Homo sapiens: one gene and its partners. The protein of the gene in region 1 purifies or fractionates together with the protein of each later gene. This does not show direct contact. Each region holds a gene or a part of one and is shown in the gene's direction. Other genes may lie near its edges.

What was found.
Region 2: the proteins of LIPH (region 1) and MSTO1 purify together in Homo sapiens (affinity purification with mass spectrometry; 3 studies listed by BioGRID and IntAct, with this or other methods). This does not show direct contact.
Region 3: the proteins of LIPH (region 1) and CERCAM purify together in Homo sapiens (affinity purification with mass spectrometry; 3 studies listed by BioGRID and IntAct, with this or other methods). This does not show direct contact.
Region 4: the proteins of LIPH (region 1) and POFUT4 purify together in Homo sapiens (affinity purification with mass spectrometry; 3 studies listed by BioGRID and IntAct, with this or other methods). This does not show direct contact.

Annotation. Positions count from the first base shown.
Region 1 is NC_000003.12:185,514,569-185,521,593, reverse strand, and holds part of LIPH (lipase member H isoform 1 precursor), read left to right. Parts: intron 1-2,284; coding exon 2,285-2,452; intron 2,453-4,431; coding exon 4,432-4,527; intron 4,528-7,025.
Region 2 is NC_000001.11:155,605,227-155,613,217, forward strand, and holds the start of MSTO1 (protein misato homolog 1), read left to right. Parts: upstream 1-4,991; 5' UTR 4,992-5,022; coding exon 5,023-5,106; exon of another isoform or gene 5,107-5,198; coding exon 5,199-5,334; exon of another isoform or gene 5,335-5,812; coding exon 5,813-5,882; intron 5,883-5,989; coding exon 5,990-6,065; exon of another isoform or gene 6,066-6,129; intron 6,130-6,184; exon of another isoform or gene 6,185-6,200; coding exon of another isoform or gene 6,201-6,322; coding exon 6,323-6,377; intron 6,378-6,462; coding exon 6,463-6,601; coding exon of another isoform or gene 6,602-6,626; intron 6,627-6,694; exon of another isoform or gene 6,695-6,739; coding exon of another isoform or gene 6,740-6,756; coding exon 6,757-6,874; intron 6,875-6,955; coding exon 6,956-7,090; intron 7,091-7,191; coding exon 7,192-7,344; exon of another isoform or gene 7,345-7,408; intron 7,409-7,579; exon of another isoform or gene 7,580-7,617; coding exon 7,618-7,749; intron 7,750-7,822; coding exon 7,823-7,991. UniProt on the Homo sapiens protein: Involved in the regulation of mitochondrial distribution and morphology. Required for mitochondrial fusion and mitochondrial network formation.
Region 3 is NC_000009.12:128,423,832-128,430,856, forward strand, and holds part of CERCAM (inactive glycosyltransferase 25 family member 3 isoform a precursor), read left to right. Parts: intron 1-306; coding exon 307-441; intron 442-578; coding exon 579-783; intron 784-4,470; coding exon 4,471-4,590; intron 4,591-4,925; coding exon 4,926-5,002; intron 5,003-5,098; coding exon 5,099-5,205; intron 5,206-7,025. UniProt on the Homo sapiens protein: Probable cell adhesion protein involved in leukocyte transmigration across the blood-brain barrier. Does not express any beta-galactosyltransferase activity in vitro.
Region 4 is NC_000010.11:73,767,717-73,775,293, forward strand, and holds the start of POFUT4 (GDP-fucose protein O-fucosyltransferase 4 isoform 1 precursor), read left to right. Parts: upstream 1-4,559; 5' UTR 4,560-4,617; coding exon 4,618-5,325; coding exon of another isoform or gene 5,326-5,386; intron 5,387-5,418; coding exon of another isoform or gene 5,419-5,450; exon of another isoform or gene 5,451-5,473; coding exon 5,474-6,099; exon of another isoform or gene 6,100-6,104; intron 6,105-7,577. Other genes in the region: protein transport protein Sec24C, read left to right, coding at 121-291, 1,094-1,190, 1,291-1,436, 1,631-1,769, 1,899-2,017, 2,120-2,299, 2,564-2,755, 2,993-3,082 and 1 more. UniProt on the Homo sapiens protein: Protein O-fucosyltransferase that specifically catalyzes O-fucosylation of serine or threonine residues in EMI domains of target proteins, such as MMRN1, MMRN2 and EMID1. Attaches fucose through an O-glycosidic linkage.

The DNA of each region.
Region 1 (7,025 bases):
TCTGTGCAGTGCCAGGCCCCGTTGCCTTTGACATGAATGAAAAATGTGGCAGGAATCTGAATGACTCTTGCTCTTGAGTTTTTGGCAGTTGTTGGGATTACTGGCACTGAACAGTACCAGACCGAGGAAGCTCATAAGAACCAGGCTTCCAGTTAAACCCTCGAGCAGAAATAAAGCAGAGGGGTTTCAGCAAACAGCGGAACCCACTAGAGGTTGCATTTATTCATTCATCCAACAAATACCTATTAATTTGCCATGTGTCTGGCACTGTGTTATGATCTGGAACTAAAGGAGAACAGTTCAGTATAGTATAACAGTTCAGAACAGCATAATAGTTAAACTACCATGGTGAACTAAATAGGTAAAGTCCATACATTGAGAAAAGCAGAGTCAAAGTTATTCTATTCAAGATAGAAGCTAGTACTCAGTCGGGTATGGTGGCTCATGCCTGAAATCCCAGCACTTTAGGAGGCTGAGGTGGGCAGATCACCTGAGGTCAGGAGTTCAAGGCCAGGTTGGGTAACATGGTGAAACCCTGTATCTACTAAAATACAAAATTAGCCGGAAGTGGTGGTACGAGCCTATAATCTCACCTACTCGGGAGGCTGAGGCAGGAGAATTGCTTGAACCCAGGAGGCAGAGGTTGCAGTGAGCCGGGATCATGCCACTGCACTCCAGCCTGGGCAACAGAGCGAGACTCCATCTCAAAAAAAAAAAAAAAGATAGAAGCTAGTACTTGATTAGATCTAATAGTGATATTTAACAGTGAAAGATTGGTTTTTAAATGCCACAATGCTGGAGAGTAAGTGAAATAAGAATGGGAGAATTTTGATAATTACTCAATTACTGGAGCGGGGATGATATGGGCATGAGGGTTCTTTGTATCCTTCTCTCGATTTTTGTGCCTGGTTTGAAAATTCCCATAATAAATGTGGCAGGGGAGTGAGAGAGCTCCATGACTGAAGCTAGTTGTTTGCATTTTTCAACCTTTCTCTAAGTAAATATATTATATGAAAAGGCAGAATGAAGAGGAATTAGTTAATGATTTGCAATTTGCTTTTTTTTTTCTTTTTTTTTGGGATGGAGTCTTGCTCTATCGCCCAGGCTGGAGTGCAGTGGCTCGATCTCGGCTCACTGCAACCTCCGCCTTCCAGGTTCAAGCGATTCTCCTGCCTCAGCCTCCCAAGTAGCTGGGATTACAGGCGCGCCACCATGCCCGGCTAATTTTTGTATTTTTAGTAGAGACGGGGTTTCACCATGTTGGTCAGGCTGGTCTTGAACTCCTGACCTCATGATCCACCCATCTCAGCCTCCCAAAGTGCTGGGATTATAGGCGTGAGCCACCATGCCCAGCCAGCAATTTACTTTTATGATAACGATTTTGGTAATTCCTTCTGATTCTCCATGACCTGGGGAAAGTTGGCCTTGGACCCAAGCACCCTCACCATGTCAGCTTGATGAGCAGACACAGCAACTTTGTAGTCTGAAGTAGCCCTGCAATGTTAGACCAGGGGCTTTCAAACTTACATGCTTCAGGACCGCATGGAAGACAGGGGACAGTGTTTGTTAAAATACTGATGCCTGCGCCTCCTCTGAATTAGAAATATTTGAGGGTGGACCTGAACTCTGTATTTTAATAAGCACGATTTTGATGCAGGCAATCTATGGATCAAGCATTGGATGACAGTGAAAGATACCTCGATTGCTACGTGAGCAATCAAGGTCTTTTTTTTTTTTTTTTTTTTTTTTTTTTTTTTGAGATGGAGTGTCACTCTGTTGCCCAGGCTGGAGTGCAATGGCACAATCTCGGCTCACTGCAACCTCCGCCTCCCAGGTTCAAGCGATTCTCCCTGCCTTAGCCTCCTGAGTAGTTGGGACTACAGGTGCCCACCACCACGCCCAGCGAATTTTTGTATTTTTAGTAGAGACGGGGTTTCCCCATGTTGGCCAGGCTGGTTTCGAACTCCTGACCTCAGGCAATCCACCTGCTTCGGCCTCCTAAAGTGCTGGGATTACAGGCGTGAGCCACTGCACCTGGCCCTGGGTCTTTCACCAAAGCATATTTGCTCTAATTCTTGCCACAACCTTAATTTGATTTCATCTTTTCTCCTCCCACTTGCCAGCATGAATTCTTATCTATGGGATTTTATAAAGATTAAATGAAATAAAATACACTGAAAGAGCGCAGGGCCAGATGAGAAATTGTGTGTGTATAGAATATGTGATATAGTATTACTAAATGCTTCAACCGCTCTACTCTTTCATCACTTCTTTTACAACCAAGGATTTCAGTATTTTAAATGTGACCACCAGAGGTCTGTATACCTGTACCTGTCTTCCCTGAGAGAGAGCTGCACCATCACTGCGTATCCCTGTGACTCCTACCAGGATTATAGGAATGGCAAGTGTGTCAGCTGCGGCACGTCACAAAAAGAGTCCTGTCCCCTTCTGGGTAAGTCTAACCAGCAGTTTCCTCTCTGATTCACAAAGAACTAATTTTTGGTATGAATCCCAGAACCACTTTATCATGTAAAAACTGGCCCCATAATTGTATTAAAAACTTGTTTTTCTGCTGGGCACAGTGGCTCATGCCTGTAATCCCAGCACTTTGGGAGGTTGAAGCAGCTGGATCACTTGAGGTCAAGAGTTTGAGACCAGCCTGGGCAAAATGGTGAATCCCTGTCTCTACAAAAATACAAAAAGTAGCCGGGTGTGGTGGTGCGTGCCTGTAGTCCCAGCTACTCGAGAGGAGGCTTAGGTGGGAGGATCACTTGAGCCCAGGAGGTTGAGGCTGCAGTCAACTGAGATCATGCCACTGCACTCCAGCCTGGGTCACAGAGCAAGACCCTGTCTCCAAAAATAAATAAATAAAAGGTTAAAATTTAAAAAAAAATTTCTTAAAAAGAAAAAAATTTTAAAAATAGACTTTTTTTTTCTAGTCAGCTTTTTCTAGCCAATTTGTTCTTTGAACTACTCTAGTCTCCTACTAATAAACAGTGTTAGAAAGCAATGTAGACTGGGCATGGTAGCTCACGCCTGTAATCCCAGCACTTTGGGAGGCTGAGGTGGGCGAATCACAAGGTCAGGAGTTTGAGACCAGCCTGGCCAACATGGTGATATCTCATCTCTACTAAAAATACAAAAAAATTAGCTGGGCATGGTGGCGGGCGCCTGAAATCCCAGCTACTTGGGAGGCTGAGGCAGGAGAATCACTTGAACCTGGGAGACGGAGGATACAGTGAGCTGAGACCGCGCCATTGCACTCCAGCCTGGGCAACAAGAGTGAAACTCCGTCTCAAAAAGCAAACAAACAAACAAAAGAAAGAAAAAAGAAAAGAAAAGCAACTGTAGAGTATTCCATCCAGAAGGCAGTACAGCCTCCCTGGACCCTCTATTCTAGCATGGAAAAGAAGGTTACAGAAGAGTTTCCAAGCTTACCCAGGGTACAGTCACTCTACGTAGCCTGCTCCTGTGGGGACAGGAATACCCTTTCTGTGCTTACAACCTCTCTGCTGGGAGAGGGTCCACAATGAGCCCAGAGACTCTCCTGACAAGTGAACTTTTTCACAGACTCATGTCTATGTAAATGCCCTCACTCCACATTCTGGCTCTTGTGTGCACGTACAGCAGGTGGAGTGAGGTAATAGATATTGTGGAGGCTGCTTGGATATTCGCTAGGGATTAGTACAGATATTCTAGGTGGTTAGGACTTTGAAACTGGATGGTCATGAGGATTTTCTATTTTTTTTCCAAAAGGAAAAATCCAAGTTAACAACAGGGCATGGTATAGACAAGGGGTTCTCAACCTTGATTGTGCTTTAGAATCACCTAAGGAGTTTTAACACAATACTGATGCCTGGGTCCCACCCTGGATCAATTAAGGCAGAATGTGAAGGCCATTCTCTAGGGCTAGGGACAGAGGAGAGAAAGAGGGCCCTCTGGACAGCAAAAACAAAGGAGGACACTCACCTGCTTAGTGACACAGTCAGTCATGTGGCAAGCCCAGGTCTATGCAATTTAGGGGCCCCATTGTAGTTCTTCAAGAAAGCATATTGGTTTTCAAGAGTGATGCTATTTTAGGTATGAACTTGAATCTGTTTTAATCTAGAAAATGAATGTATTACTGAAAAATGTCAGTGTTATTTTTAGTCCACACCAGTGTGTGCCACACCCCACACCTCTCCACCCTGCTACTGAGAACCAGTAAAGGGGGAAAACAACTGGAGGGTCCTGTTGCCCTTCAGCTCTTAGGGACAGGGTTGGCCAGCAAGATGGGTCACCCTGCAGGCCCTCACCATGGGGGATGGAGGTGGGATGGAGTTTCTCTCAGAAGTGGTGGATACAGTCAAACTCAATGTTCTTGCTACCTCAGTTGCTTTTATGTTTGTATAATACATATTAATCTTACAATTTTTTAAACTTGTTTCATAGGCTATTATGCTGATAATTGGAAAGACCATCTAAGGGGGAAAGATCCTCCAATGACGAAGGCATTCTTTGACACAGCTGAGGAGAGCCCATTCTGCAGTGAGTGGTGAATGTGGTTGTTGGCTTTTGCCTAACTCTCATTTTGGGGATGGCTGAGTCTCAGCTTCCTGGCTACTTCTTGGCAAATAAGAGCCATGATGAAGCATCAACTTTGGAGCTGGAAGGGCCTCGGTTGACTCCTGAGTCTACCACATAATAGCTGTGGGACCTTGGTGAAGTCATTTGACTTCTCTGAGTCTCAATGTCCTGACTGGTCAAATGGGGGTAATAATGCCTGTATTCTGGGATATTAGGTTTAATCTGATGCCATTTAAAAATATTAATTTAATAAAATCTCAACAAATCAGAGTTGTTAGTTTCACTGGATGACCATTCTAATCACTAAGATCTTCCAGAAAATTGCTTGATTCCCCAAAAGACATAAAATTAAGACTAGGAAAAATCAGGTGTCAGCCATATCTACAGGTCAGTTCCAGCTCTAAAGCAAACATGATGACCCAAAGGCCTCGAGAGGTTGAGTATTCCAGATGGGAATTAAAGGGGGCAGCCAATGATTAGACGCCTTGGGAAGCAACTAGAATTTCCTTGGGCAGATGTGTTTTTCCTACAGTCTTGTACCCATTTTCACTTTCCTTGGGAACAACTATTTTATTTCATTTTATTTATTTTTTTTGAGACAGGGTCTCACTCTGTCACCCAAGTTGAAGTTCAGTGGCGCAATCTCAGCTCACTGCAATCTCTGCCTCCTGGGTTCACGCGATCCTCCTGCCTCAGGATTCCGAGTACCTGAGACTACAGGTGTGCATCACCATGCCTGGCTAATTTTTGTATTTTTAGTAGAGACGGGGTTTTGCCATGTTGGCCAGGCTGGTCTCAAACTCCTGACCTCAGGTGATCTGCCTGCCTTGGCCTCTCAAAGCGCTGGGATTACAGGCATCAGCCACCATGCCCAGGCTATGTTAATTTTTTTTTGAGACAGGGTCTTGTTCTGTCACCCAGGCTGGAGTGCAGTGGCACAATAATGGGGCACTGCAGCCTCAACCTCCTGGACTCAAGCAATCCTCCTGCCTCAGCCTCCCAAGTAGCTGGGACTTCGGGCATGCGCCACCATGCCCAGCTAACTGTTTTTTTTGTTTCTTTTAGAGACAGAATCTCACTATGTTGCATAGGCTGGTCTTGAACTCTTGGGCTCAAGCAATCCTCCTGCCTTAGTGCTGGGATTACAGGTGTGAACTTCCATGCCAGGTGTGAGCAACTCTTTTAAAAGAGCCTGGAGGCTAAGCATGGTGGCTCACGCCTGCATTCCCAGCATTTTGGGAGGCCAAGGCGGGCGGATCACTTGAGGCCAGGAGTTTGAGACCAGCCTGGCCAACATGGTGAAACCCCATCTCTACTAAAAATACAAAAACCCCAAAAACAAAATATAAAAATTAGCTGGGCGTGGTGGTGCTTGCCTGTAATCCCAGCTACCTAGAAGGCTGAGGCTGGAGAATTGCTTGAACCCAGGAGACAGAGGTTGCCGTGAACCGAGATTACGCCACTGCACTCCAGCCTGGGCAACACAGAGAGATTCTTTTAAAAAAAAAAAAAGCCTGCAGATCACTGGGTTTCCCTCTTTCTTTGGAGCCATGTGTGGCAGCCCAGGATTTGGCACCTACCTGGTCTGTATGGGGCAAGCCCCTGAGCAAGTTGGGCCATAAAATGGCAAATCCAGGACTGACCTTATTCCTTCGTGGGACTGTCATCTCCCTGATTAGTTCCTGTTGTAGCGTGTTTTAATTTTATCTTTTTTTTTTTTAAAAAAACCCATAAGACATTATTCAGGTAACATTTGTATAGATGTACCCACATATTCACCACTTTTTTTTTCTCTGAGTCTGCTGGTTAGGGAATGCCACTTTATTTTTATTATCACCCTTTCTTGCATTTTGTAAATACAGGAAAGTGTGCTGAATAATAATGGGGAGAGTCCAGAGTATGGCAGGAACTTCAAGAAAGGAGACCTGACTTAGTCTGGGGGTCAGGAAAAGCCTTCTGGAGGAATGACATTAAGTTGAAACCTAAAAGGTGGATTCACAGAGCTGGCAAAGTAAGCGTGCCCAGGTGGGTGAAGGCCCAGGAGCCTTCACAGTGCAGGGAGTGCAGGTGGTGGAGCATGATTGGGAGAAGGATGAGGAAGGCTGAGTAGGCTGGTGGACTTGGCCCAAACTGTGGAAAACCGTCTCAGCCCTGGAGGGTCTCCGAATGGCCCCTTAGTTGGTTGAGTCTAAAATGGGCAGGAATTGATGTGAACCACACTCAGCCATAAGCCCTAAGACTTCACAATACCTGGAAACACTGGTTCAACGATGATGCCTGACCATGGTGACTGGAAACCAATGAACTCTGCTATCACTCATGCCATCTTTACCAAAGAGAAGAGAAGGGAATATTAGAAACTTCTGCCCTGGATCTTTGCAGAGAAACCAGAGAGAAAGAGAAGAAGAGACTCAGTGATTAGGGAGGTTCAGTTTTTAGGAACCAGCCCTTCAGGGGAT
Region 2 (7,991 bases), on another chromosome or scaffold:
CTCCAGCCTAAGCAATAGAGCAAGACTCCATCACAAAACAAAACAAAACAAAACAAAACAAAACAAAAACAATATTGAAAATAAAAAAGCACATCACCACAGATCCTGCAGACATGAAACAGTTTAAATGAGTTCACCATAAACAACTTGGTAGTAATAGCTCTGAATTTGTAGATGAAATGGACAAATTTCCAAAAAAATATGGCTTACCAATATTGACACAAAAAAATAAACTTTAAATACTCCTATACTAATACAGAACTTGAATAATTCATAGGTGAAAACTTTTCTGCAAACACTGCAGGCAGGGCATGGTTCACTCCTGTCATCCCAGAACTTTCAGAGTGGGAGGATGGCTTGAGTCCTGGAGTTCGTGACCAGCTTGAGCAACATAGACCTCCTCTCTACAAAAAAGGTTTAAAATCATGTAGTCACAGCTACTCCGGAGGCTGAAGTGTGAGGATCGATTGAATTAAGGGGTTCAAACTGCAGTGAGCTCTGATCCAGCCATTGCACTCCCTCCAGCCTGGCTGACAATCAGATAATGTCTTAAAAACAAAAACAAAGAAATAACCAACTCTAGGTCTATATAACTTGGCCTGTAAACTCCAGCAAACATTTAAAGAAATGATGCCAATCTCATATAAATTCTTGTGGAAAATAGAAAAGGGAAAATACTTCCCAACTTGTTTTTGAGGCCACTGTTATGCTAATATCAAATGCTGACAAGAACATTAAAGAAAAGGAAAATTAGCCAATCCCATTCACACATATGGATGCAAAACAAAATATCAGTAAGTAGATCCAACTTTTTTTTTCTTTTTTTTGACAGAGTCTTGCTCTATCACCCAGGTTGCACTGCAGTAGCATAATCTCAGTTCAGTGCAACCTCCACCTCCTGGGTTTAAGCAATTCTCCTGCCTCAGCCTCCCGAGTAGCTGGGACTACAGGCACTGGCCACCATGCCCAGCCTTTTTTTTTTTTTTTTTTTTTTTTTTTTTTTTGTATTTTTAGTAAAGACGGGGTCTCGCCATGTTGGCCAGGCTGGTCTCGAACTCCTGGCCTTAAGTGATCCGCCTGCCTCAGCCTCCCAAAATGCTGGGGATTACAGGTGAGAACCACTGTGCCTGGCCAAGATACAACTTTTTTTTTTCTATTTTTTCTTCTTCTTCTTTCTTTTTCTTTTCAGACGGAGTCTCACTCTGTCTCCCAGGCTGGAGCGCAATGACATGATCTTGGCTCACTGCAACCTCCGCCTCCCAGGTTCAAGAGATTCTTCTGCCCCAGCCTCCCGAGGAGCTGGGACCACAGGCGCGTGCCACCACTGCCAGCTAATTTTTGTATTTTTAATAGAGATGGGGTTTCACCATGTTGGCCAGGTTGTTCTCAAATCCTGACCTCAGGTGATCGCCTGCCTCAGCCTCCCAAAGTGCTGGGATTACAGGTGTGAGCCATCGTACCCAGCCTTTTTTTTTGTAGCAACAAGATCTCACTATGTTACCCAGGCTTGTTTTGACCTCCTGGGCTCAAGTGATCCACCTGCCTCAGCCTTCCAAAGTGCTGGGATTACAGGCATGAGCCACTGCAGCCGGCCCAGATCCAATATTTTATATTTATTTATTTTTTGAGACAGAGTCTCCATCTGTCGCACAGGCTGGAGTGCAGTGGCCCCATCTTGGCTCACTGCAACCTTTGCCTGTCGGGTTCAAGCAATTATCCTGCCTCAGACTCCTGAGTAGTTGAGATTACAGGCACGCGCCACCTCGTCCTGCTAATTTTGTGTTTTTAGTAGAGATGGGGTTTCACCATGTTTGCCAGGCTGGTCTCGAACTTCTGACCTCGTGATCCGCCCGCCTTGGCCTCCCAAAGTGCTGGGATTACAGGTGTGAGCCACCACACCCAGCCAGATCCAATATTTTAAAAGGATAATCAACATAAATGAATTTAGGTTTTTTGTTTGTTTGTTTGAGTTGGAGTCTTTCTCTGTCACCAGGCTGGAGTGCTATGGCGCGATCTTGGCTCACTGCAACCTCCGACTCCCTGGTTCAAGAGATTCTCCTGCCTCAGCCTCTCAAGTAGCTGGGATTACAGGCACGTGCCACCACGCCCAGATAATTTTTGTATTTTTAGTAGAGACAGGGTTTTCACTATGTTGGCCAGGATGGTCTCGAACTCCTGACCTTGTGATCCGCCTGCCTCGGCCTCCCAAAGTGCTAGTATTACAGGTCTGAGCCACCGCGCCTAGCCGAGTTTAGGTTTATTTGAGGAATGCAAGATAGTATTACATGATAATCTAACGATGTAATTTATTCATTAGCACAACAAAGGAAGGATAAAATAATGTAATTATCTTGGTTTGGAGAAAGCTGTAAAAAACATTCAAATCTATTCATGATCAAAACTCTTAGCAAATCAGGACAGAGAACTTCCTTAAACTGTCAGAGTATCTATAGAAACTTTTCAGCCCACATCATACTTAGAAAAGTGAAATAGTAGCCGGGCATATTGGCTCACGCCTGTAATCCCAATATTTTGGGAGGCCGAAGTGGGCAGATCGCTTGAGCTCAGGAGACCAGCCTGGGCAAGATGGTGAAACCCCTTCTGTACAAAAAATACAAAAATTAGCCGGGTGCAGTGGCCTATGCCTGTAATTGCAGCTACTTGGGAGGCTGAGGTGGGAGGATCGCTTCAGCCCAAGAGGTTGAAGCTTCAGTGAGCCGGGAGATTGCACCACTGCACTCCAGCCAGGGCAAAGAGAGTGAGACAGTCTCAAAATAAATAAACAAAACTAAATATAATACATGTGAAAATACAAAGAGCTCAGAAGAGATAAGAGCATCTAACCTTTATTTCTTGAAAAAATTTCAAACCTACAAGAATGCTCAGAGAGTACTGCAAAAGAACACCTATAATCTTCACCTAGATTCAATTAACATTTTGTCACTTTTTAAAATTTTGAGACAGGGTCTCCCTCTGTCTCTGGCTGCAGTGCAGTGCTCCAATCATGGTTCACCGCAGCCTCTAATTCCTGCGCTGAAGCGATCCTCTCACCCTAGCCTCTGGTTAGGACTACAGATGTGGGCTGCCTAGCTAATTTTTTGAAAAATTCTTTTATAGAGAGGATAGGGGGAGGGGGAGTCTCACTACATTGTCCAGTCTACCCTCACATTCTCGAATTTCTGGACTCAAGCGATCTTCCTGCCTCAGCCTCACCAAAACGTGGGAATACAGGCGTGAGCCTCTGCGCCCAACCAATATTTGCCTTATCTCTTTTTTTTTTTTTTTTTTTTTGAGATGGAGTCTGGCTCTGTTGCCCAAGGTGGAGTGCAGTGGCGCGATCTCGGCTCACCGCAAGCTCCGCCTCCCGGGTTCACGCCATTGTCCTGCCTCCGCCTCCCAAGTAGCTGGGACTACAGGTCGCGCCCGTCACCACGCCCGGCTAATTGTTAGTATTTTTAGTAGAGACGGGGTTTCACCGTGTTAGCCAGGATGGTCTCGATCTCCTGACCTCGTGATCCACCCGCCTCGGCCTCCCAAAGTGCTGGGATTACAGGCTTGAACCGCGGCGCCCGGCCTTTTTTATTTTTATTTTTATTTTTTTATTTTTTATTTTTTAGAGAGGAGTTTTGCTCTTGTTTCCCAGGCTGGAGTGCAGTGGCGTGATATCGGCTCACTGCAACTTCCACCTCCCAGGTTCAAATGATTCCCTGACTCAGCCTCCTGAGCAGCTGGGAGTACAAGGGCCCGCCACCACGCCCGGCTACATGTTTTGTATTTTTAGTAGAGACCGGGGTTTCATCATGTTAGCCAGGCTGGTCTCAACCTCCTGACCTCAGTTGATCCTCCTGCCTCGGCCTCCCAAAGTGTTGGGATTACAGGCGTAAACTACCGCACCCGGCCCTTGCCTTGTTTCTAAATACACACAAGAATGTTAATCATAGCACCTAATAGCCCAAAAATTGGAAACAATCCCAAAAGCTATTATCAGCAGTATATATATATATATATATATATATATTTTTTTTTTTTTTTTTTTTGAGACAGAGTCTCGCTCTGTCGCCCAGGATGGAGTGCATTGGCGTGATCTCGGCTCACTGCAAGCTCCGCCTCCCGGGTTCACGCCATTCGCCTGCCTCAGCCTCCCGAGTAGCTGGGACTACAGGCGCCCGCCACCACGCCCAGCTAATTTTTTTTTGTATTTTTAGTAGAGATGGGGTTTCACCGTGTTAGCCAGGATGGTCTCGATCTCTTGACCTCGTGATCTGCCCGCCTCAGCCTCCCAAAGTGCTGGGATTACAGGCGTGAACCACCGCGCCCAGCCTATTCTTTCTTTAGAATAGATCAGTGGTGGCGTATTCATACAATGGACTATTCCGCAGTGATGAAAATGAATTATAGATATTTGCAAAAATATGAATTACATAAACCATATTGAGCAAAAGACGCCAACAGATACATACTCTCTTTACATAAGGTGTTAGATACACAGAGATAGATAAATACGTGTAAATGATAGAGATATGATAGCTAAGCCAGTCCACAGGTTATTAGTCGTGGTCCACGTGACTTCTGAAGAGATGAAGGGGCATGGGAGGCTTTAGGGGAGCTTCCGCTTTTCTGGCAAGGTTTTCTTTTTGCCCGGGGAGCTATCAGCCAGCGGAGAGATCTGTGAGAAGGGATAAGACCTCAAGACAAGTAGGAAGCAGAGCCTTCCACGGCCCGCGCCCTGGCGGCCCCAAGTCAGCGGCGGAGACGGCGCCCACCCCGCTCCAACGTGGAGCAGGAGCAACGGCGTGGCCCGTGGAGCCCCGCCCCTCACAGGCAACCACAGAGAAGCCGGACTGGGCCACGTCTAGGAAGAGGTAGGAAGGGATCGGCGCATCGTTTCTCCAATGGGAAAGGATGTGTTTGCGGGCCAATAAGTAGCCGAGAATAACACCCGCCCACGCGCCTGCCAAGCCAATCGGCTAGGAGCAGCGAGCGGCGCGGCTGAGGCGCGGCGGCCCCGTGGAGCAGCGCAGTATGGCGGGCGGGGCCCGGGAGGTGCTCACACTGCAGTTGGGACATTTTGCCGGTTTCGTGGGCGCGCACTGGTGGAACCAGCAGGTGAGGTCAGCCGGCAGCTGCCCCCGAGGAGCCCTTCGGGATCTACAGTCCCGACGTTCAGCCGGCCTGCCTCGTCCTCTCTGCTTCCCCAGGATGCTGCGCTGGGCCGAGCGACCGATTCCAAGGAGCCCCCGGGAGAGCTGTGCCCCGACGTCCTGTATCGTACGGGCCGGACGCTGCACGGCCAGGAGACCTACACGCCGCGACTCATCCTCATGGATCTGAAGGGTGAGGTGGTGGCAGAGTTAGCCGATGCCCCTTATTTCCCTTCCGCGTGCCTAGTCCTTGCGCTGCCGTTATCTTCAAGACCCTCCCACCTTACCGAGCTCCAGGACCGGAGATGAGGAGCTGAGCACAACATGCCAACACTCGAGGGGCCCACGACAGTTGCTCAAGAGCCATTTCGGGAATAGGCTGCTAGGCCCTGGAGACAGTGAGGACTTGAACTGCAGCACTCCTGTCAGACCCCTGGATGTGGTTCCCCCCGCGTCCCACAGCTAATGACTAAGCTGGGAACCGAAAGATGGAATCTAGATTCTCCTAAGCCAAGGTTTTTCCCCCAACTAGTGTATATCCCAGAAAGCTTGGAAGAGCCAAGTGCTGGAGAGATGGTGACAGCAGGTTGTCAGGTGATCAGAGGAAGGTTAGCTAGAGGGGAAGGGTGCCCAGGCTTTGACCTAACATTGTCTCTGTTATTTCTGTACAGGTAGTTTGAGCTCCCTAAAAGAGGAAGGTGGACTCTACAGGGACAAACAGTTGGATGCTGCAATAGCATGGTGTGTAACTGATGTATGGATAAGGGTGGGGATCGTGTATGTACGCAGAACGCTGGATAACTCTGATCAGAGTGCAGTTTCTTTGATCAATCTCCAAACTCTTTCAGGCAGGGGAAGCTCACCACACACAAAGAGGAACTCTATCCCAAGAACCCTTATCTCCAAGACTTTCTGAGTGCAGAGGTGAGGGCCTCTGTCCTGAACTTTTTAACCCGGTGCCACAACCCGAGGGTCTCCATAGGGGCAGGTAAACGGGGATTTTAATCATTTTAAGTGTCTTAGAATGATATTTTGGGAAAAAGCACTCCTTTTCCTAAGGACTGCGACTCGGTGAACAGAAAGGAGGCTATGCGGTGTGGCCAGCCAACTCAAGGAGGACGAAGCAACCTTTGCCTCTAAACTGCCTGGAACTAAATGTCGATTTTTCTGACCCCTCCCAGGGAGTGCTGAGTAGTGATGGTGTCTGGAGGGTCAAATCCATTCCCAATGGCAAAGGTGAGACTTCTCCAGATACTGATGGATGGGGGCTTGGGTAGAGCAGAAACATGGAGAAAGGTACATTTCCTCTGCTTGTCTTCAGGTTCCTCACCACTCCCCACCGCTACAACTCCAAAACCACTTATCCCTACAGAGGCCAGCATCAGGGTCTGGTCAGACTTCCTCAGAGTCCATCTCCATCCCCGGAGCATCTGTATGATTCAGAAGTACAACCACGATGGGTATGGGGACCCCAGAGGCTTTGAGGCAAGAAACATGGGTCCCCACCAATGCAGGATGAGGCTCTTGAGGCCATCTTCCCTGCCCTTCCCCAGGACAAGAGGCTGAGGAGTTGAGGGAAGAGATGTAAGTCTTGGATCATGTTTACTTGTGGCAGGGAAGCAGGTCGGCTGGAGGCTTTTGGCCAAGGGGAAAGTGTCCTAAAGGAACCCAAGTACCAGGAAGAGCTGGAGGACAGGCTGCATTTCTACGTGGAGGAATGTGACTACTTGCAGGTAGTGGCGTGGCAATGTGCACTCCAGGGTGGAAGCTCTTCTCATCCTGCTAACTATCTTTTGTCACTCACCCCCGTCCAGGGCTTCCAGATCCTGTGTGACCTGCACGATGGCTTCTCTGGGGTAGGCGCGAAGGCGGCAGAGCTGCTACAAGATGAATATTCAGGGCGGGGAATAATAACCTGGGGCCTGCTACCTGGTCCCTACCATCGTGGGGTGAGTGGAACTTAGAGAAGTAAACAGTCACACAGTGGGGAGGGAGAAATCAGAATCCCAGTGGGAGAGCTGCTTAATACAAACTACTCTTTCTTCACCAGGAGGCCCAGAGAAACATCTATCGTCTATTAAACACAGCTTTTGGTCTCGTGCACCTGACTGCTCACAGCTCTCTTGTCTGCCCCTTGTCCTTGGGTGGGAGCCTGGGCCTGCGACCCGAGCCACCTGTCAGCTTCCCTTACCTGCATTATGATGTAAGTCTCGGTGCTCTTGTTCTGACTGCGGCAGGCTACAGGGCCTCCTCATGCTCCCAGTCAGCCGCTGTCTGTTACTGGCTCTGTTCTTGAGGCCCGAGCTTGAACTCAGCTGTGATGTGGCCTCTCAGATCACACTGTCCTATGCTTGTCCAGCCTGGGGTCAAACATACCCCTGATTCGTCCCCTGGGTCTCTCTGGTGTTAATATTCTGCCTCCACACATTCTTTTCCAGGCCTGAGGCCAAGTGCCCATCTTGGTGTCTTCTTACAGGCCACTCTGCCCTTCCACTGCAGTGCCATCCTGGCTACAGCCCTGGACACAGTCACTGTTCCTTATCGCCTGTGTTCCTCTCCAGTTTCCATGGTTCATCTGGCTGACATGCTGAGCTTCTGTGGGAAAAAGGTATGAAGCTTTGTAAGGGGTTGGGTCAGTGCTGAGAAAATGTCCTATAACGTGTTCTCTTCCATCTCTTTAGGTGGTGACAGCAGGAGCAATCATCCCTTTCCCCTTGGCTCCAGGCCAGTCCCTTCCTGATTCCCTGATGCAGTTTGGAGGAGCCACCCCATGGACCCCACTGTCTGCATGTGGGGAGCCTTCTGGAACACGTTGCTTTGCCCAGTCAGTGGTGCTGAGGGGTATAGACA
Region 3 (7,025 bases), on another chromosome or scaffold:
TAAATTGAGCCTGGATCTCTGAACTAGAGCTCAGAGTAGGTGTTTGGATCCATTTTCTAAGCCAGATCCCAGATAAAGGTCTTAGATCAGTAACTCAGGTATAATCTCTGGACCCAGTCCCTGAGTCAGTGCCCCAGACTAGAGCCTTGGTCCAGAAACAGATGTACTGAGTTTGTGAGACCTCTGTAAGAGCATTCCCACTGGATCCTAGGAGCCACGCTGGGTCTCTGGCAGGACCACTCAGTGAACTCCTTGGGGGGCTGCAGCCCAGGCAGGGCTGGAGCCTGTGACGTCCCCTCCTCAAAGTTTGCAGACACAGACAACATTCTGACCAACAATCAGACTCTGCGGCTTCTCATGGGGCAGGGGCTTCCAGTGGTGGCCCCAATGCTGGACTCCCAGACCTACTACTCCAACTTCTGGTGTGGGATCACCCCCCAGGTGAGGCCGGGATGGGGGCCTTGGGTGGACTGAGGTCCTGGAAGGAGGGACGTGGAGAGCAGAGAGCCTGAGGCCTTGGGGTCTGTGGGCAGGGGCAGGGGAGCCCTCTCACAGCCCAAAGCATCCCTTTTCCCCAGGGCTACTACCGCCGCACAGCCGAGTACTTCCCCACCAAGAACCGCCAGCGCCGGGGCTGCTTCCGTGTCCCCATGGTCCACTCCACCTTCCTTGCATCCCTGCGGGCTGAAGGGGCAGACCAGCTTGCTTTCTACCCGCCACATCCCAACTACACTTGGCCTTTCGACGACATCATCGTCTTCGCCTATGCCTGCCAGGCTGCTGGTGAGGACCAGCCCTCCTTTAGCATTCCTTGGAGGCCTCTGCACATTTGCACATGCTATTCCAGCTGCTTACCATGCCCTTCCCTACTCTGCATTTCATCCTGTTAACCCATGAGTTACAACTTTGGGTCATGAGTTTTCTTTTCTCTCTCTTTTTTTTTTTTTTTGGTGTGATCTCGGCTCACTGCAAACTCTGCCTCCCGGGTTCAAATGATTTCCTGCCTCAGCTTCCCGAGTAGCTGGGATTACAGGCACCCGCCACCACACCCAGCTAATTTTTGTATTTTTAGTAGAGACGGGGTTTTGCCATGTTGGTCAGGCTGGTCTCAAAACTCCTGAGCTCAGGTGATCCACCCGCCTCGGCCTCCCAAAGTACTGGCATTACAGGTGTGAGCCACCCGCCCAGCCAGTGGTTACTTTTAAGATGAAAGGTTTTTTGTTGTTGTTGTTGTTGTTGTTTTTGGGACAGAGTCTCACTCTGTCGCCCAGGCTGGAGTGCAGTGGCCGATCTTGGCTCACTGCAAGCTCCGCCTCCCGGGTTCAAGCCATTCTCCTGCCTCAGCCTCCCGAGTAGCTGGGACTACAGGCGCCCACCACCACGCCCGGCTAATTTTTGTATTTGTAGTAGAGATGGGGTTTCACCGTGTTAACCAGGATGGTCTCGATCTCCTGACCTCGTGATCTGCCCGCCTCGGCCTCCCAAAGTGCTGGGATTACAGGCGTGAGCCACCGCGCCCAGCCAAGATGAAAGTTACTAGAAAGAGTTTGGGTATGGCCAGGCAAGGTGACTCAGACCCTAATCTCAAAGTCTTGGGAAGCTGAGGCTGGAGGGGAAATCACTTGAGCTCAGGAGTTCGAGACCAGCCTGGACAACATAGCAAGACCTCATCTCTTTTCTGCCCTTTTTTTTTTTTTGAGATGGAGTTTTGCTCTTGTTGCCCAGGCTGGAGTGCAATGGCGTGATCTTGGCTCACTGCAACCTCTGCCTTCCGGGTTCAAGCAGTTCTCCTGCCTCAGCCTCCCGAGTAGCTGGGATTACAGGCATGCACTGCCACGCCTGGGTAATTTTGTGTTTTTAGTAGAGACGGGGTTTCTCCGTGTTGGTCAGCCTCGTCTCGAACTCCTGACCTCAGGTGATCTGCCCGCCTCAGCCTCCCAAAGTGCTGAGATTACAGGCATGGGCCACTGAGCCCAGCCCAGCCTTTTTTTTTTTTTTTTTTTTTTGAGACGGAGTCTTGCTCTGTGGCTCCCAGGCTAGAGTGCAGTGGCACAATCTCAGCTCACTACAGTGTTGACCTCCCCCACCTCAGCCTCCCACGTAGCTGGGACCACAGGTGCACACCACCATGCCCAGCTAATTTTTGTATTTTTTGTAGAGATGGGGTTTTGCCGTGTTGCCCAGGCTGGTCTTGAACTCCTGGGCTCAAGTGATCTGCCCCCGCAGCCTCCCAAAGTGCTACAATTACAGGCGTGAGCCACCGCCCCCGGCTGCGAGATCCCATCTCTACAAAAAAATTTAAAAATTAACTTGGCGTGTTGGCCCACGCCTGTAGTCCCAGCTTCCTGGGAGGCTGAGGCAGGAGGATCGCTTGAGCCCAGGAGGTAGAGACTGCAGTAAACTGTGATCATGCCACTGTACTCCACCTTGGGCAACACAAGATGAGACCCTGTCTGAAAAAAAACAGAGAGTAAGAAAGTGTTTGGGTTTGGATGGAATAAATCCAGTCCTGGCCAGGTGCGGTGGCTCACGCCTGTAATCTAAGCACTTTGGGAGGCCGAGGCAGGTGGATCACGAGGTCAAGAGATTGAGACCATCTTAAGACGGTGAAACCCCGTCTCTACTAAAAATACGAAAAATTAGCCAGGCATGGTGGCGGGTGCCTATAGTCCCAGCTACTCGGGAGGCTGAGGCAGGAGAATGGTGTGAACGCAGGAGGCAGAGCTTGCAGTGAGCCGAGATCGCGCCACTGCACTCCAGCCTGGGCGACAGAGCGAGACTCTGTCTTAAAAAAAAAAAAAAATCCAGTCCTGAGGATGAGAGGGAGGGGTGGAGACACTGATGTTGGAGTGAAGCTCTTGAGAAGGCTGCAGAGAATATGTAATTCCGACCCTGAAGACTATCTGGTGCATGGAGAAGAACTTTGCAGGTGCTCAGGGTAAATTAGAGGTGACGATTTAATCAAGTAATCAGTGGCAGCCGGTAAGGAGGATGTTGTAATTCTTTGTTTTGTGCTGGAGAAGTCTGCAGTGTGCAGACATGCAAGAAGAAATCTTACCAAGTGCAAAAAGTGAGTGAAGGTGAAACAATTGGAGGGGAAAACACAAGAGGAAACAAAAGCATTCTGTTATTTTTAATTTGCTAGCCCTACTTCAAGCGACAGCCGTTGTTAATTGGTCAATGGTTTGAAGGAATTCAGTCTCTAACAGCCAGATACTACATCCCGGCTCTGGGCCAGGCTCTGTGCTCAATGCTGGGAATAGGGTTAGCTTTTATTTGTTTTTTGTTTGTTTTTTTTTAAGACAGAGCTTTGTTCTGTCGCCTAGGCTGGAGTGCAGTGGCGCGATTTTGGCTCACTGCAACCTCTGCCTCCCGGGTTCAAGTGATTCTCCTGCCTCAGCCTCCTAAGTAGATGGGATTACGGGCGGCCACCACCACAGCCGGTTAATTTTTGTATTTTTAGTAGAGATGGGGTTTCACCATGTTGGCCAGGCTGGTCTTGAACTCCTGACCTCAAATGATCTGCCTGCCTGGGCTTCCCAAAGTGCTGGGATTACAGGCGTGAGCTACTGTGCCCCGCCTAGGTTAGCTTTTTAATTGGCACTGTGTGCCTGCCCCTGAGGATAATTATAATAAAGGTAACAAATATTGGCCGGGTGCAGTGGCTCACGCCTGTAATCCCAGCACTTTGGATGGCCTAGGGTGGGTGGATCACTTCAGGCCAGGAGTTCGAGACCATCCTGGCCAACATGGCGAAACTCCGTCTCTACTAAAAATACAAAAATTAGCTGGATGTGGTGGTGCACACCTGTATTCCCAGCTACTCAGGAGGCTGAGGCAGGAGAATTGCTCAAACCTGGGAGACAGAGGTTGTAATGAGCCAAGATCGCACCATTGCACTCCAGCCTCGGTGACAGAGCAGGACTCCATCTCAAAAAAAAAAAAAAGGTAACAAATATTGAAGCCGGGGGAAGGCCACTCTGGCTGCCAGGTGAAAGACATCGTGGAGAGGAGCCCCAGAGGGTGTGAGGTGAAGTGGAGGGGTGTGGGGAAAAGGCGATGGCCCTTGGATCCAGGTGGGGTGGTGGGGATCAGGAGAGGTGGGGGGATTTAGGAGACAGAGCAGTGGGGCTCACTGGCACCCTGTGGCTGTGATGGGTAGGAGTTTGTCTGCTCCTGCCTCACCTTGATGCCCTGAGGGCAGGGACTCAGTCTTGCTCACTGCCGTAACCCTGGCTCCCAGCGGGTGCCCTGGACAGGTATATTGAATGAATGAACCATTTCAGTAGAAAGACCCCTTAGATATTGTGTGAGCCAAGCCCTTTCTCCCTCTGGTCCCACAGGTGGGGAAACTGAGTCCCAGAGAAGACTGACATGTTGGGTCACTGGCAGTGCTGGGCCTAGGACCTTTCAGCTGGGTTCTGAGAGCCCCACCCTCCACTGCAGCTCTCACTCAGCCTGTCTCTGCAGGGGTCTCCGTCCACGTGTGCAATGAGCACCGTTATGGGTACATGAATGTGCCGGTGAAATCCCACCAGGGGCTGGAAGACGAGAGGGTCAACTTCATCCACCTGATCTTAGAAGCACTAGGTGAGGGCTGGGGAACTGTTCCACCCACCTGCTGCCGGGGCTCCCTGCCTCCCCACGGTGCCCCTTTCCCTAGGCCCTGGACGGAGCGGGCATTGGCCTTGGGGTTCCAGCTTTGTCCCTAACTCGTTCCATGACTCTGAGAAAGTCCCTTTCCCTGTTGGGCCTTAGTCTAGCATCCCTACAATGGGGGCAGGTGGATCCTGTGATCTCTGAGGTCCCGTCCTGTGGGGTGTTCTGCCAAAGGGGGCAGGAATGAGGCTGGGGGCTAGGACTTCAGGGTGACTGCTAACAGGAGTCAGTAGGGACTCGTGCTTGGGGTGTGCTTCCCTTTGCAGTGGACGGCCCCCGCATGCAGGCCTCAGCTCATGTGACTCGGCCCTCTAAGAGGCCCAGCAAGATAGGGTTTGACGAGGTAAGTCCCCCAGCCTGTGGGCTCGCTGTTAGGAGGTGGATGGGCCCTCCTCTTCCGCTCCCTTGCACTTACCGCCCACCCCCCTGCCTCCTCCAGGTCTTTGTCATCAGCCTGGCTCGCAGGCCTGACCGTCGGGAACGCATGCTCGCCTCGCTCTGGGAGATGGAGATCTCTGGGAGGGTGGTGGACGCTGTGGATGGCTGGTGAGCCTGCCTGGTGGGGGGGGCCCTGTGCGCTTGGGGAAGCAGTGTGGTCCATCTCCTAGCCCGCTAGGACTGGGAAAAGCAGACAGGTTGAATGAGTTTCCTGTCCCATGTAGTATCCAAATAGGGTCTGAGTAATATCCTCTCAGGGAGTTCCGGAGCAGACACACGTGGGAGAAGATGCCCTCCTGCTGCTCACCAGAGGAGGAGAGCACAGTGGCTGAGGCTCCAGGGCCTGGGTTCCAGCTCTACCAGTTACTGAATGTGTGACCTCCAGCCAGCTACCCCCATCTCTCAGCCCGTTTGTATAAACAGCAGATAACTGTGCCCTTCTCTTAGGGTTTTGTGAGTTTAGTGAAGTTAGCCAGGGCCGGGCACATAGTTTCCAAAGGCTTAGGTGTCTCCCTTATTATTACTCTCCATCCTGGACTTGAGCTACTGATGCGTGGGGATTAGGAAAGGCCAGCCATGTTCCCCCGAGGAACCCAGAGGCTAGGCTTCTCCAGCCACCAGGGGTCCTATGGCCCCATATGTCGGCTGCCATTTGCTTCAAGTACTCAGCTCTTTTTATTTTTTTTTTAGAGACAGCGTCTCCGTCTGTTGCCCTCCGTCTGTTGCCCAGGCTGGAGTGCGGTGCCACAAACATGGCTCACTGCTGCCTTAAACTCCTGGGCTCAAGTAATCCTCCCACCTCAGCCTTCTGAGTAACTGGGACTATAGGTGTGCACTATCACATCCAGCTAATTAAAAAGAATTTTTTTTTTTTTTTGAGGCAGAGTCTCGCTCTGTCGCCCAGGCCTGGAGTGCAGTGGCGCAATCTTGGCTCACTGCAACATCCGCCTCCCAGGTTTTAAGTGATTCTCCTCCCTCACCTCCCAAGTAGCTGTGATTACAGGCTTGCATCACCACACCCGGATTAAAAAAAATGTTTTGTTTTGTTTTTTTTTCATAGAGATAGGGTCTCACTCTGTTGCCTAGGCTGGTCTTGAACTCCTGGCCTCAAGTGACCGTCCTGCCTCAGCCTCCTGAATAACGGACTACAGGCATGCACCACCATGTCCACCTAATGAAAAAAAATTTTTGACTGGGCACGGTGGCTCATGCCTGTAATCCCAGCACTCTGGGAGGTTATGGATGGATCACCTGAGGTCAGGAGTTCGAGACCAGCCTGGCCAACCAACATGGTGAAACCCCCTCTCTACTAAAAGTACAAAAATTAGCCAGGTGTGGTAGTGGGTGCCTGTAATCTCAGCTACTTGGGAGGCTGAGTCAGGAGAACTGCTGGAACCCAGGAGGCAGAGGTTGCAGTGAGCCGAGATTGTGCCATTGCACTCCAGCCTGGGCCGACAACAGTGAGACTCTGTCTCAAAAAAAATTTTTTTTTTGAGAGATGGGGTTTTTCTCTGTTGCCAAGGCTGGTCTTGAACTCCTGGCCTCAAGCAATCCTCCCACCTTGGCCTCCCAAAGCACTGGGATTACAGGTGTGAGACACCACATCCCCCGAGGTCTCTTGACCATAGGCTATCCATCCTTTGCTTGGGCCTCTGCCCAAGAAGTATCTATCATGTTCCCACATTCTTCCTAGAGTGCCTCCCCCTCAGGCAGCCCCCTACCATCCCACCCTTTCCTCAAGGGTCACCCCTGTCTTATCATATTAGGACATGTCCTAATAGTTATCCTCTCAGAACTCCCGAGGTGGCTGGGCGTGGTGGCTCATGCCTGTAATCCCAGCACTTTGGGAGGCTGAGGTGGGTGGATCACCTGAGGTCAGGAGTTCGAGACCAGCCTGGCCAACATGGTGAAACCCCATCTCTACTAAA
Region 4 (7,577 bases), on another chromosome or scaffold:
TTGGAAGTAGATCTGAAGTCTTCCATGAATTTGAATATCCCATGCTAGATATACAGTTTTCAAATAGGGCGGAGCTGAGATATTTGAACATTTTCTTCTCCCCATTTTCTTTCCCCCTAGACTCTGTTCCAGCCTCAGACAGGTGCCTATCAGACCCTGGCCAAAGAGTGTGTGGCCCAAGGCTGCTGTGTAGATCTCTTTCTCTTCCCTAACCAGTATGTGGATGTGGCCACACTCTCTGTTGTGCCCCAGCTCACTGGTGGCTCTGTCTACAAATATGCTTCCTTTCAGGTATGGTGTGGGATTTGGGGCAGCAGGTGGCAGCAGGGCTGGGAATATCTGCTTATATATGCAGTGGCTGACTCATTAATAGAAATAGTGTTGGGGCCAGGCACGGTGCCTCACACCTGTAATCCTAGCACTTTGGGAGGCTGAGGCAGGCAGATCACCTGAGGTCAGGAGTTCAAGACCAGCCTGGCCAACATGGCAAAACCCCATCTCTACGAAAAATACAAAAATTAGTCGGGTGTGGTGGCGGGCGCCTGTAATCCCAGCTACTCAGGAAGCTAAGAATCCCTTGAACCCGGGAGGTGGAGGTTGTGGTGAGCCGAGATTGCGCCACTGCACTCCAGCCAGAGCGACAGAGTAAGACTCCGTCTCCAAAAAAGAAGAAATAGTGTTGGAAGAGAAGACTGCATAGTCTGAAGAAGTGAGCCCGAGAATGTGGCAGTTAGGAACATGGGCCTTGGAATCAGTCCTGCATTGATATTCTGGCCCCACCACTTACTAGCTACATGACCTAGGATAAATTTCTTAAGTACTTCCTCTTTTGTTCCTTCATCTGCAAAATGGTGTTAAAATACTTAAGTAGGATTTGTCAACAGAATTAAATAATTATATGTAAAGCACTCTGTGTGGTACCTGGCATGCAGTCTAAGTGTTTAAAAGCTATTATTGTCATCATCATTATCATCCTCACTGTTATGATGATGATAATTAGGTGGCCTTGTAGAGTGGAAGGGGTACAGGGAGATTGTCTGCACGATGAGCTATGTCTAGTCAGTGACATGACTCTGGACCTGGGGGCCTGCAGGTGGAGAACGACCAGGAGCGGTTCCTGAGTGACCTGCGTCGTGATGTCCAGAAGGTTGTTGGCTTTGATGCTGTGATGCGGGTCCGGACAAGCACTGGTCAGTCCTGATTGAAGAGCAGGTTGGGGGGCTAAATATGGAAGGGAGGCATGTGGCACTTGTCATACTTTTTGCCCTGACCCTGTCCATGTGGCCTCAGGTATCCGTGCTGTAGATTTCTTTGGAGCTTTCTACATGAGCAACACGACAGATGTGGAGCTGGCTGGGCTAGATGGGGACAAAACAGTGACTGTGGAGTTCAAGCATGACGATCGGCTCAATGAAGAGAGCGGAGCTCTCCTGCAGGTGGCAGGCGGGAGGCGGGGCTGGGCAGGAAGTGTTTCATTCGCTTGGTATAGAAGAGGGTGAGGAATGGGTAGAGAGCACTAAAAGAAGAGACAGGGCACGGGAGTGGCTCATTTCTCTCTTCCAGTTTAATAGTGTAGCAAAGGGCCTTTGTGAGGGAGGGGTGTGAGTTCCCCCTTTCTCCTTTCCCCTAGTGTGCCCTGCTTTACACCAGCTGTGCAGGGCAGCGTCGGCTCCGCATCCATAATCTGGCCCTGAACTGCTGCACCCAGCTGGCTGATCTATATCGAAACTGTGAGACTGACACGCTCATCAACTACATGGCCAAGTTTGGTGAGGGTAGAAGCAGGGCAGGGTGGGATTGGGGCTGAGAGGTCCAGGATGGTGAGTGGGTAGTTGTGATGGTGGGAATGCACACATGATGGGCAGCTGACCAGTGACTATCTTTGCTTTCCCATCCAGCATATCGGGGAGTCCTGAATAGCCCTGTGAAGGCTGTTCGTGACACGCTCATCACCCAGTGTGCCCAGATCCTGGCCTGTTACAGAAAGAACTGTGCTAGCCCCTCCTCTGCAGGACAGGTGGGGCAAGTATATTAGTGGGAGGTGGGGTTGTTGGGACAAATGTTTGCATTTGGGAGGGATTTCTCATGATCATTGACTTTATTTTGATAATCCCCTCAGTTGATCCTTCCTGAGTGCATGAAGCTACTCCCAGTTTACCTGAACTGTGTGTTGAAGAGTGATGTCCTGCAGCCTGGAGCTGAAGTCACTACTGATGACCGTGCCTATGTCCGACAGCTAGTTACCTCCATGGATGTGACTGAGACCAATGTCTTCTTCTACCCTCGGCTCTTACCTTTGGTGCGATTGAGGGTTGGAGTATGAGATCTTGCACGGAGCAAAGGGCCTCTTAGGAGGAGGAAAGGATAGGCTAGTATCAGTCAGACACTAGTGGAATTTGTTTTTATGTATTTTAGCTGATGTAATTTTCACACTGAGAGAGTTACTGAGACCCCAGAAGGGGTGGTGTCTGAGGACTTAGCTTTCAAAATTTTGTGTGTGGTGCGGGGGGGCAGACTTGTCTTATGGTCCTTGGTAACCTTTTGCTCCCTTCCTTTTGTCTAGACAAAGTCTCCCGTTGAGAGTACTACCGAACCACCAGCAGTTCGAGCCTCTGAAGAGCGTCTAAGCAATGGGGATATATATTTACTGGAGAATGGGCTCAACCTCTTCCTCTGGGTGGGAGCAAGCGTCCAACAGGGTGTTGTCCAGAGCCTTTTCAGCGTCTCCTCCTTCAGTCAGATCACCAGTGGTTTGGTGAGGGCAGGGAGTCAAGGAGAATATGGGTGTGGAAGTATACTTTGTGAAACAATTGGGAGCCAATATAGTTAGTGTGCTAGTACCCTCAAATATCAGGGAACACTTGGGGACAAGGGCAGTTGCTGTCATTCTTCCCAGGTTTGCCTGTTTCAGATGATGCATACATGTATGCTGCCCCACCTTGACTGAACTCAGAGTGCCTTACCATAAGGATAAATGAATTTTGTGTTCTAGAGTGTTCTGCCAGTTCTGGATAATCCACTGTCCAAGAAGGTTCGAGGCCTCATTGATAGCTTACGGGCACAGAGATCCCGGTACATGAAGGTAACACTGATCTGAACCCTGGATTTCTTACCTTGTCAAGTCCTCACCTAGAAGTGGGGGTTGGGTGGGGAATGAGTAAGTGACTGCCTAATGAGATTTCTGGGCATGTTTAATTTCCTTTGGCCTTGCCTTATGAACCCTGAATTCTGGCCGTAGCTTACCGTGGTGAAACAGGAAGACAAGATGGAGATGCTGTTCAAGCACTTCCTGGTGGAAGACAAGAGTCTGAGTGGGGGAGCATCTTATGTGGACTTTCTCTGTCATATGCACAAGGAGATTCGGCAGCTACTGAGCTAAAGCAAGTGGGTAAATGGCATAGGGCCCAGGCTAGCTTCCAGAAAGCACCCCAGGATGTCAGAGAAATTGGGACAGTAACATATCTTATGTAAGCTGACCTCAGTCTCTCTGGGGGGAGGGGGAGATATAAGGAGACACCTTCTTTCTGGGCTCAAGTATCCTGCCACTCTGTCATGTCCTGCTGATGGAAGGTGCCCCTGTTCCCTCATTCTACCCTCTTTTTCCTGCTAATCCTGTCATAATGAATGTAGCTTCTCAGTTCACTGTATATGATTCGGTATTGGGGGTTTGGAGGCACCCAGACCCTGGCAATATTATGTGTCCCTTTGGACCAGTCTCCCAAGAGGAGAGGGGCAGGCAGGAAAGAGTGGGGATCCTAAGGTTACTACAGGGGGCTCAGTGTCATCCACAACTTCCTATATTAGGGATAAAACATATAGGTGCACAAGAGCTGGGGTATAGCCCATAGGTGGTGGAGAGAAAAGTGGTCAGTCCTTCTTGGGCCTGGAGGTTAGCAGTCAAGTTTCTCTGCTTTCACTGCTCGCTCGCTCTCTCCTGCAATGATTGATGATCACTCCGTGGATAGAGAGGCACACTGTCAGAGGTGACCGGAGAACTGAGTTGCAAAATATATTAAGATCTGGTAGAGGTACCAGCTTCCTTTCCAGCTGGAGAGGCCCCAACACTGGATGGTTCTGTAGGGAGCCTAGGGAGCCTGGTCATCAACTTGCAATACCTCACAGAGCCAGTTCACATCCCACTCTGAGCTCCCACGAGAAACACTGCTTCTCCAGGCCCGGGGTTGTTGGGGAGAGAGGCAGAGGCAGCTGGAGCGCCGTTCTCTCCTGCTGGGACACCGCTTGGGCTTTGGTATTGACTGAGTGGCTGACAGTTATCTTCCAACCCCAACTGGCTTGGGGGCAGGACAAGGGCTAGGCTTGATGGTGGCCAGGCTTGCCTGCTCCCCACCTGGGATGCCCCTGCTCTGGACCTCTCATTTCTCTTCATTGGTTTATTTTTCAATGCATCTTTAATTTGTAAAGAAATAAAATAAATTAAGATGTAACCATTAGCCTCATCTTTACTCCCGAAAGCTCACTTTGCTTTTAGTCCTGGCCGTCGGCTGAGCGAGCTGCGCATGCGCCACGTGCCCCCGTGGCGTAGGGCCTCGTCCGGTCACGACTATCCGCTGGGCGGGGTCGGTGCTGGCCGAGGGGGCGCCGGCTGCCGGAGTGGACATGGCGGCCGGCCCCATTAGGGTGGTGTTGGTCCTTCTAGGGGTGCTCAGTGTCTGTGCAGCCAGCGGCCATGGGTCCGTAGCGGAGAGGGAGGCCGGCGGGGAGGCGGAGTGGGCGGAACCGTGGGATGGCGCGGTTTTCCGGCCGCCCTCGGCGCTGGGCGCAGTGGGGGTGACGCGCAGCTCTGGGACGCCGCGGCCAGGGAGGGAGGAGGCGGGGGACTTGCCGGTACTGCTGTGGTGGAGCCCAGGGCTATTCCCCCACTTCCCGGGAGACTCGGAGCGCATCGAGTGTGCGCGCGGCGCGTGCGTGGCGTCCCGGAACCGCCGAGCGCTGAGGGACTCGCGGACGCGCGCGCTGCTCTTCTACGGCACAGACTTCCGCGCGTCGGCCGCCCCGCTGCCGCGCCTGGCGCACCAGAGCTGGGCGCTCCTCCACGAGGAGTCGCCCCTCAACAACTTCTTGCTGAGCCACGGCCCGGGCATCCGCCTCTTCAATCTTACCTCCACCTTCAGTCGCCACTCGGATTACCCGCTGTCGCTGCAGTGGCTGCCCGGGACCGCCTATCTGCGCCGCCCGGTGCCTCCGCCCATGGAACGCGCGGAGTGGCGCCGCCGCGGCTACGCGCCGCTGCTCTATCTGCAGTCACACTGCGACGTGCCAGCGGACCGGGACCGCTACGTGCGCGAGCTCATGCGCCACATCCCGGTGAGTGAGGGCGGGCCGGAGGGAAGGAAAAGGAGAGGGCGGGTTGAGGCCAGGACTCCAGGTGTCCAGGACTCCAGGTGTCCAGGACTCCAGGTGTCCAGGCCTCCAGGGCCGCACCCTCATGACAGCCTTACTGTACCCGGTCTAGGTAGACTCCTACGGGAAATGCCTGCAGAATCGGGAGCTGCCTACCGCGCGGCTACAGGACACAGCCACGGCCACCACCGAGGATCCAGAGCTCTTGGCTTTCTTGTCCCGCTATAAGTTCCACTTGGCCCTGGAAAATGCCATCTGTAACGACTACATGACAGAAAAACTGTGGCGTCCCATGCACCTGGGCGCTGTGCCCGTGTACCGCGGTTCTCCCTCTGTGAGGGACTGGATGCCGAACAATCACTCCGTCATCCTGATTGATGATTTTGAGTCTCCTCAGAAGCTGGCAGAGTTTATTGACTTTCTGGACAAGAATGATGAGGAGTATATGAAATACCTGGCATACAAGCAACCTGGGGGCATCACCAACCAATTTCTTCTGGATAGTCTGAAGCATCGGGAGTGGGGAGTGAATGATCCTTTGCTGCCTAACTACCTCAACGGCTTCGAGTGTTTCGTCTGTGACTACGAACTGGCTCGGCTGGATGCCGAGAAAGCCCACGCGGCCTCTCCCGGGGACAGCCCCGTCTTTGAGCCCCACATTGCCCAGCCCTCACACATGGACTGCCCAGTGCCCACACCTGGCTTTGGCAATGTGGAAGAGATTCCTGAGAATGACAGGTAAGAGTGCTGGGGTCCCCTGCAGCTATCAAATCATTTACTTACTTGCTTACTGTGGGCAATTAAGTAGCACTAGGTGCTGAGCAGGTGCAGGAGGAAATTATCACATGGGCTCATTCTGTATTTAAGGTGTCAACAGTCTAGTTGGGGGGATAAGACAAGCTGAAAAAGCTGAATAGATGTAAAATATAATTCAAGGCAACGTATGAAAATCAGCTTATGTGAACAATGTTTCCAGTAGTGGTTCAAAAAGATTGAACCAGAGTACAGGGCCTGTGCAGACAGGGGAGAGAGAAAATGGGGCAAATAAATAGGGACAAGGCTATAAATATCATTAATACCAGGTTCAGGAGTTTGCACTGCACTAAAAATCAACTCAGCTATTTGAGCACCTTTTATAGAGTGGAAATGGGGTTGGGCAGTAGAGAAGAGCACTTTTAGAGAGGCTTTTCTGCAGTAGTCAGGGGTTACACCTGTTAACCAGCCATAATTTTTTTTTTTAAGCGGCTGTGCTGAGGATGAGCCCCATGTAGTTGGTGCAGGTGGGGACACACTGCCTGTGTAACTAGAAAAACTAGGCATGGCCGGGCACGGTGGCTCACACCTGTAATCCCAGCACTTTGGGAGGTCAAGGGGGGAGGAACACTTGAGGCCAGAGACAATATAATATATAATATAATATATTGACCAGCCTGGACAATATAATAAGAGCCTCTCTGTACAATTTAAAAACTAAAAGCCTGGGGTGGTGGCACATACCTGTAGTCCTGGCTACTTGGGAGGCTGTGGCAGGTGGATTGCTTGAACCTAGGAGTTCAATGCTGTAGTGAGCTAGGATCGTGCCACTGCATTCCAGCCTGGGTTGGAGTAAGACCCTGTCACACACACACACACACACAAAACAATGCACAATGCGCATCAGAAGGGAAGCGAATAGGCTACTGTAGTAGGTGGCAAAAGGTGGTGGTACTGGGAAACAAGGCCAGCGTGTGGTGTGGGGTGGGAAAATGTTGAAACCACTTGTAGCAAGCCACACCTATTGGGGGAGAGGTGATAAGATTATTAAGCTGAAGTAAGGCTGCTAGAATGGCCTATAGAAACCGACTTGGACAGTGGATGGCAGCAGAAGGCCATTTATTAACAGATGCTGCTGGCAGTTTTGTCCTGATGGTTGGAATCCTTCACCAAGTAATTTGTATCTAATTACAAATTGTTTGTATCTGAACATAATATGATTTACTAGAGGAAAAGTATGAAAAAATATGAAACATTAAGAAAATAAATATTCAGGTTATGTCTTTTCTAGATACTGGATGCTACTTCATTTTGATGCACCTTCATTTTGATTATTGGCATAAAGGTGAAACTTAAAAGATAATCATCTAAAGACCCCTGCCCCCTTGCTTTCCTTATGGAGACTGCCACTTCCAGTCTGGCCTCTGCTTTGCCTGCCTCTGAACCCCCTCCACATTTGGGAG